2 separate regions of the Homo sapiens genome follow, and region 2 is linked to region 1. Evidence: fine-mapped expression QTL. A gene starts in region 1. The other region holds a variant in brackets. All regions are shown on one strand. Distances are from middle to middle. Region 1 holds the start of NFIX (nuclear factor I X). Region 2 overlaps NFIX (nuclear factor I X).

The links.
Region 2: its variant is fine-mapped to the expression of NFIX in blood mononuclear cells (TOPMed, PIP above 0.99). The same link has a PIP of 0.9 or more in T cells and whole blood.

The regions. Positions count from the first base shown.
Region 1 is chr19:12,993,649-12,997,863 of GRCh38, reverse strand. NFIX (nuclear factor I X) reads right to left here and starts at 2,389. Exons shown (of 11, transcript NM_001365902.3): 1 at 2,000-2,389. The coding sequence starts at 2,026. RefSeq lists an enhancer at 1,520-2,108 and a silencer at 2,283-2,442.
Region 2 is chr19:13,076,105-13,080,319 of GRCh38, reverse strand. It overlaps NFIX (nuclear factor I X), which reads right to left. Exons shown (of 11, transcript NM_001365902.3): 7 at 1,585-1,707. Among named protein-coding and RNA genes, the nearest start is that of LYL1, 25 kb to the left of the region's middle. RefSeq lists an enhancer at 2,934-3,869. The variant G/A (reference allele first, on the strand shown) is at 1,771.

The DNA.
Region 1 (4,215 bases):
GCCAAGCACCGGCCATCGCCCTGGGTCTCGCAGCCGCCCCAGCCCCTTCCTAGCCATGTCACCGGCGTATCCACAGGCATTTTCTCTCCCAGGGTGCTGTGAAATCTGAGGGGCTGGTGTCTCACCCAAGCCATGGGGGAGCAGGCTCAGATGTCTGGCGTGCTTGGCATGGGAGGCCGGGCTGGCAGCCTGGTGGGCAAGGGGCTGCTTGAGCGTGGGGTCTTGGTTCCACTAGGCCCCAAACATCGGCCACACAGCCCAGCCAAGTGTAGCACCAAAGAGGCCCAGCTCAGACACCGCTGGGTAGGCAGTTGTTGTGAGGGGCGCCCAACATGGAGTGGCCGTGGAACTGGAGGTGCAGATGTGGGGGTTCCCCACACTGCCATGGTGCTCAGGGTGCCTGCTCACACCTGCATGCACACTGCAACATGTATGCATGCCGGTGCGCCCTCGCCAACACGTACTTGGGCCTGCTTTCTACAGGAAAACCCGCTCCCTGGGCCACACACACGGCCATGCCACGCAGGCCTGCCCATGGCCGGCCCACAGGGGCTACACACAGACTCTAGATTGATTCACACTTGCATACACTCTCACCTGTGCATACAGGAGTGTGGTGTAGCCACAGCTGACACACACCCCGACAAACCCCTCGCCCCTTGACACCACTGCACACTCCCGGTAGGACCCAGACAAAGTAGGAGCCATACCCATGTGGACTGCCACTGTAAGCTGTGGACACACTTGGCACATGGCTGACAAGGATCAGGCTGGGCAGAGGGGACAATTAGGGCCTGGCCTAGAGAACCCCCACATGCAGGCCTGGCTGGCAGCAGGGCTAAGCAGCCCCTAGATGTCCCCTCTTCGGAGACTGTTACCAGCTGTGGCTTGGCCCTGCAGGCAACGCTGTCAGGGCCACTGTGGGACTCTGGGCAGCTTCTGTGCCCTCTTAGAGCCTCAGGCCACAGCCCAGGGAGAGTTGGGTGGCCCGACAGGCATCCTCGAAGCTTTTGCCGCAGCCGTGCGCCGCGCAGGGAACTTCGCTGCAGGCGGGACGCGCTCTAGCAACGCGCCAAGGTCGGCGCTGTTGTGCCCGAGGCTGACCCGACGGTGTGGCCGCAGCACTGTCGGCTGTGTCCACGGCTGCCTCCCGCCCCTCCCGCCTCCAGGCGACGGGACGGGATTCCCCAGGCCTGCCGGGTCCACTCCGCAGCAGCCCGGGTCGCTGGGGCCAGAAAGTTTGCGCCGAGGAAAGTTTGGGGGTGGGGGGGCAGAGGCTGCGACGTCCGGGGTCGGAGAGGCGCGGCCACCGCTGGCAGCGCGCCCGCCCCCCTCTCCCCTCCCCTGCCCCTCCGAAATTTGGGAGCCCCGCCATTTTCTTAGCCCCGCTCCCATGTGAGGCCTAAACAAAGACTTTGGGGAGACGCCCGGGCCGCTCGGCCCACCCCAGGCACCCCGGCCGCACGCAAGGGCCGCCGCCACGCACGCCGGCCACTGCCACCCTCGGGAACCGCTGCGCCCTCCCCAGGAAGCGTCGCGGGACCCAGTGTCCCCTCTGCGCCCTCGGGACCACCCTCTTGCCACTCTGTCAACCCCGCAAACACTGCCAGCGACCACGCTGCCCGGGTGCGCGCTACAGTAGCCCACAGGTCAGCCGGAGTCCCGCTGCCCATCGCACCCCAGTCGAGCGCGCACACACACACACACACACACACACACACGTACACGCACTCCCGCCTGCGCTCCACGGGCAGCGCCACGACGCAGCTGGCCACCCCCGGAACCCCCAAAAGGAGTCCGCCCGGTGGCCAGGGTCGCACGCGCACGGTGACGCCCGCACGCGTGCCTGGGCTCCCCGCGGCACAGCCTGCACCCCTCGGCGGCCCGCGGGCTCTCGGCCCCCCCTTCCCGGCCGCCGCGCGTCCCCTCCGCCCGCGCCGCCGGCCGGCCTCCCGCGCCCGCTCCCCTCCCCCGGTCGCGCGGGGGCGGCGGCCGGTACCTGGGTGAGGCAGTACGGGGAGTACATAGCTGGGCGCCCGGGCGGGAGCGCGGCGGCCGGCCGCGGCGAGGGGAGGCCCGGCAGGCGGCGGCCGCGCTCGGGCTCGGGCTCCGGCTCGGCTCCTCCGGCCTCCGCCGCGCTGCGCCCGCCCGGCCCGCGGCCCCGCGCTCGGCCCGGCGCCGCTCCGCGCTCGCCGCTCGCAAGCTCGGCCCCGCCGGCTCCGGGGCCGCCGCTGCCGCCGCCGCCGCCGCGCTCGCCGCTGCCTCTCGCGTCCGCCGCCGCCGCCGCTGCCGCCGCGCGTCTACTCCATGCCGCCGCCGCTCGGCCGGTCACCCTCGCCCGCCGCCGCCGCCGCCGCAGCCGCCGCGCTGTGAAAGTGAAAGTTTAGACAAAGTTTGGAAGCGGCGCACTCCGGGGAGAGGGAGCGGGCGGGCGGCGCGGGCGGGAGGAGGGGCGCGGGGAGGGGCGGGCAGGGCGGGGGAGCGGCGGCCGGCGCACACACACAAGCACACACATGCACACACACACACGAACACACGCACACGCGCGCGCGGGGGCGCACACCGACGCGGCCGCCCTGACACGTGCTGGCCCGCGTTCCAGCGCAGACACACGCTGACACGCAGCGGGACTCGGACCCCGCCACACATGTCACGTCCAGAACGCCTGGCCACACGTTCCGCCTTCGAACACAAAGCACACTCGGACACCAGTGCACACAAGGCACAGACACACAACCCCTACACACGGGCACACACACACAGCAGTCTGGGAAAACACCCACGACCCACGCTCTGACATGCACCGTCCCACCATGGTATCCAGGCACACAACAAGGAACCGCGTATAGACATACACCAAAGCAGGCGTCACGTAGACACACACTGATATACACGAAGACACACCAGTGCATGACACATAGAGATGCACACTGATGCACACACACTGACGCATGTTCCTGCAGAACACAGACACATGCAAGATCACACAGCCACACGCTGACACCTTCCAGACACACAATTCCTACACGCAGACACATACACAACACACACACATCGCAGTGCCAGAACACACTGGCAGTTGTGGCAGTACACCCCGATGTACAGAATGACACTGATGATTGAGAGGCCGAGGCCAGTGGATTGCTTGAGCTCAGGAGTTCAAGACCAGCCTGGACAACATGGCAAAACCCCTCTCTACCAAAAATACAAAAATTAGCTGGGTGTGGTGGTGGATGCCTGTGGTCCCAGCTACTTAGGAGGCTGAAGTGGGGGGATCCCTTGAGCCCGGGGAGGTCAAGGGTGCAGTGAGCCATGATAGTGCCATTGCACTCCAACCTGGGTGACAGAGCAAGACCCTGTCTGAAAAAAAATAACTAAATAAATAAGATGACACTAATGAAGGGAAGATACACAATGTCACATAAACACACACCAAACACCTGGAAGTGAATGCAAAGGACCCCAATACAAAGAGATACACAGCGTCACAGATACAAAGCAACACTGGCTGTCACAACACAACACACAGACACACACACACACACACACACTGGGTTGCCCAGATGTACCCACAGGCCTTGGACACACTGACCAACTGATGCCCAGGCGGCTGACAACCCCCCTGGGAGAATCATCTAGCCATGCACACAGGGATCACACACATACACCCATGTCCCTTACGTGCCCCCCCCCCAACACACTTGTAATGTGGCCCTGATCATCGACATAGGCAAATATAGCAGGAGACCCACAGCTCAGCTGTCAGGGACAGAATTGGGCATCAGGGCCTCCGTACATGTACACACACACACACACACTTTGGTGAGGTTCCAGCCCCTCTTGCGGGCCCTGACTCCTCATTTTCAGAACATAAAGGCCTGGGGGGAGAGGTAGTGCTGGGGACCCTGGAGCAAGGGGAGAGGAAGCCCTCTGGTAACCCTCAGGGTGGGTGGGGAGGCAGTGCCTACAGCCCCCAGGCAGCTCCTGCTGAGACAAAACACCCGCCTGCTGCCAGGTGCAACCAGCACCTTCTTGCTCTCTTGGGCCAAAAAGCTGTGGCAATTCTCAGCTATGCATTGTCTGTTAAAGGGGGTGTCAGTGCCCAGGGCGGGGGGTGCGCACGCACACAGGGTTGGCTGTGCCCATTGGGCTCTTGCAAGCAGGCACAAAAGTATGCATGTGTACGTGAGTATGTGTGTAAATGTCCCAGAAACG
Region 2 (4,215 bases), 82 kb before region 1:
CCACTGCATTCAGCCTGAGTAATAGAGCAGGAAACTGTCTTTGAAAAAAGAAAAAGAAAAACAAACAAAAAAACTGGTGTTTGCTTACCATACCCTTTTTTTTGCAATAGTTTGGATTTTAAAACATATTCCATTAAAATATTATTTATCTTGATGACTGAGTTTTTGATACTTGCTGACACTCTGCACCTAAGGTGAGTGCCTCACTAGCCCTGCCTTAATTCAGGCCCTGGGTGGGAGACTGGGTGGGGGACAAGAGGAGGCAGAGGGTTCCCTGGGGCTCTGGATGAAGACAAAGCCAGCATCTGCTCAGGATGGCCGTCTGACATATGCACACACATCTCCTGAGTGCGAGCTGGTGTGCACCCAGCCACCGCCACCTAGGCGGTGTTCTCATGTGCTCAGCCTCATCACTCACACACGTGTCCTCACATACGCGTCCTTGCACACGCAATTCCCAACCCAGAGCAGGCCCCAGCTCTTCCTCCTCCCGTCTGTTTCCAATCAGCTCGCTCTTGCTCTCGGTTTCATTAGGGGGCTGAGGAAACTTGGCTTCTCTCTGGAGTTCATAAAAGCTGAGGTGGAGCCGGAGGAGCCAGGCCTGCGCCCTCCTGCTGCCTGTGTAGAGGGCCTGGGCTCCCCACCCCCACCTCGCGGCCACCACACCCTGCCCCAGCACCGGCTGCCTCTGGGCTCCCAGCCAGGAGGCCCCAAGGAGGAAGCCAGGAGGTAAACCTCCTCATTTTCTGTGTCCTACATACGAGCCCAGGAGATGGCAGGCGGACATAGGGCCATATCCAGAAAAAGTCCAGGCCTCTTGCTGCCAGGTGGGTGCCCAGAGAGGGAAGAAGAAAGTGAAGGAGTGACAGGGCTGAGGTCTCAGCTCCCACAGCCTCCTGCCTGATCCTATCTCCTCAGGGCGATCTAGGTGTTCTCATCCTGAGCACCTTCTCAACTGGGACACTGAAGTCAGAGAGCAGCCCCACGGCAGTGGGCAGTTCCTTTTCCTGGGGAGCAGCCCAGGTACCACCTGTCCCCTAGACCCAGCCCTTCCTTTCTAGAAAGCGGCAGGGAGGCCCAGACAAGGTAGCTACTTGCCGCAGGAGCCTGGGCTCCTTAGGAGTACTCTTCTCCATCCAGGCCCCACATCAACCTGGGCTCATGCTGGCAAAAATCCAGAGCCTGGGCTCAGCCAGGAGCTGGGAGAGAGGAGCCGGCAGGAAGGCAGAGCAGAAGGCTGTGCCTTCCCGCTCACAGCTGGCAGGACAAAAGGAGAACTGGGCCAGAGTTGGGGAGGACTCGGGACAGGCTTGTGTTGTATGTAGCACCCATGCACGTGAGGAGTGAGAAGTGGGAGGTTGCTCAGGAGCCAGGTGGGCAGCCCAGGGGCCCGGCCTGGTCCTCGATGAGGTGCTACGTGAAGCAGGGGCCGGCTCCCATGCCCACCCGCTGCTGCACCTTGGCCCACTTGGAGAGCGTGGGGCTGTCACTCGGGGTCAGCTCTGGCCCCTTCACCTGGCCAGCTGCCCCTAGATACTCAGCCACCTCCCCAACTGCCCCCCTCCGGGGCCCCCCATTTCTCACCTGGTCTGACTCCAGCAAGCACAGGCAGCGGGTGGTGGGTGAAAGCCATGCGCGGGGAGCTGCCCTGAGAGGAGAGGGCACTGCAGAAGTCCAGCTTTCCTGACTTCTTTAGAGAAGCCGGGCCTGGGGGGAGGAAGCAGCAACACAGGGCAGGTTTAGCTGGGCTGGGGTGGGTGCGGGGAAGGC[G/A]GGAAGCCAGCAGCTCGCTCCTTCTCTCCTCAGCCCCTCCCCACTGCCCCTTCCTCCACTGTGCTCCCTCCTGCTGCTCCTTGCCCAGTCCCAGGCCTTGTTCTAGGCCTGGTTCCGAGGCCCTGTGTGTAGGCCAGCCAAGGGGTGCTTCTAACCAGAGAGGAAAACGAGGCCCCTGGGTAATGTGGGGTGGTGTGTGCCAGGCAGGGGGTGAGCAAGGGCCCCAGCCTATGCCCTGGCAAGCAGGTAATGAAGTGAAAGGGTGGGATGCAGGACCAACATTGGGAAAGGAGTGCAGGAGGAACCCCAGGGCGCCAGCTTGAGAGCCGGGAAGGGGTAAGTTTGGGAGGGACAGGCTGGGGTCTATGCCATGGTGCCCGGGGCCATGGGAGGTTCTGGTGGGAAGAAGCCAGGGCCCCGTTTAGGGAAGGGAGCACACAGCCATGAGCCCTCAGGAGGGACACAATGCCCAGCGAGAGAGCAGGGACAGAGGCCAGAGGACCTGGAGAGTCCTTGGGCTGCTCAGGCCTAGCCGGGCTGTGCAGGCAGAGCCAGAGGGGAGAAGACTCCCCCAGCCAGGGGACCCAGAAGCTCAGCTGCCATAGGATGGATAATTTCAGGGCTCTGCCCTGCTTCTGGTGCCAGAGGTGTGGGTGGCATTCAGCATGAAACAAGGGCACAGAGAACACCTTGTTTGAAGTCTGTCTTTAGAAATTCATCTCTGCCCAGTGGCCATAGCATCCAAATGACAAAGCAGGGCCCCCAGGGGGCCAGGTTCTTCTGGAAAGATCAGCTCCCATCTTGGGCTGAGCTTTAAGGTTGTGCCCAGGCTGGGAAGGATAAGGTAGAGTTGGGGCAGATCTCACAGCTGCCACCCTTGGAGGACAAATCAAGTCAGTTTGGGTGAGGGGTGGAGGGGCTGCAGAACAGAGAAATAAAGAGCCATCTTAACTGCAGAGGGAAGGGGCGGGGGAAGGGCGAACTCCCAGCCGCCAGCGGAGGTGTTATCTGGCAGCAGCTGTGTGCCACCTGATAGCTGGCACAGTGGGGAGGGGGGAGCATCCTACCAGCTGTGCACAGCTGTCCCCATGGCCGCACAGTGCCTCCCCAGCTGTTCCCTGTCCTGCAGCTGGGCTGCTTAATTGGCAATTTGTTGCAGCCCATGAAAACAACACACAGCGGGGTGAGGGGAAAAGGGAGCCGGAGGGTGCTGCAGGAGGATGTTGAGGGGCCGTGCGTGGCAGGACTGCCGGAAGGAGCAGAAATGCAGAAATGGCAGGCGCAAAAGCAGACAGCCAAGAAAGGAGAGAGCAGGAGCCAGGAAGAGGGGGGCTCCTCAGGAATTAGGTCTGGGCACAGGAGCCCAGGAGCCCTTGCCCCAGGAGCCAGCTGCAGACACAGTCCTCTATGCACCCCAGGGGCAGTCCTTGCAGAAGGGGTCACCTACTGAGGCCCCGGCCAGGGACCCAGGATGTAGCCCAAGAGTCTCCCGGGCCTTCTCAACTCCTCTCTCTGCCTCTCAAGGCTCCCCTAGGGAAGCATGTGGCCCATGCTGGCCCAAGTCCCTGCCTGCCACGAGGAGAGCCTGGGAGGGGCCCCAGAGTCACGCAAGGAAGCCTTCTCACAGAGGCCAGCCTCTGCTGGCCATCTAGAGGGTCTCCAGCCCACTCCCTCAGCCTGAGGCCTGGAGGCGAGCCCTCCTTTCCTCCTCCCAGGAGGAGGAGAAGCTGCCAGAACTTGCATTCGTTCTGGGGCAGCAGAAAAGCAGGAGTGCTTCCCAGCCCCACCTCGCTCCACCCCAGACTCTGCCTGCCCACTTGGCCCTTCCCAGTAGGGGCATATCTGGAAAACATCAGACAAAGTACCATTAGGTCAGACCCTCACCTTTTGGAGGAGGAGAATGATGCCCAGGGCCCAGGCCTGTCCAGAGCAGCCATGCCCTGTGCACAACCCACACGCGTGAGTCTGCACTCCCAGGCCCTGTCACACCCACAGTGAGGATAAACACGGGCTGTACCACTGGCACGTCAGCGGGGGACTCTTGCGGCCAGCCTCCTCACACACATGTGCTCATGCACATGCACACACACACACGCACGTGTTACATGCTGTCTTCCAGAGTCCTCTCTAGGTCTGTCTGCACCCTCAGTCAAGAATGGAGGTGAAGGGGGGTGGGTTCAACAAGAAGAAGATCCCTAGAGGAGACTGGGAAGGTCTGAGCTGGCTTCCTCTGTACTCTCTCCCCTTCGCTAGCTTCCCTACCTGGTCTCAAAAGGACTCTGCTCATTCTTCACTAGACTCTGAGCCTCTCTCTGTGAAGCTGGGCCCTTGAGACCAGTGGTTCTCATCCTGGGAGGATTCCATCCCACTAGGGAACGTCTGACAATGTCTGGAGGCGTTTTTGGTCATCAAAACTGGGGGTGGGGGTTTTGCTGCTGGCATCTT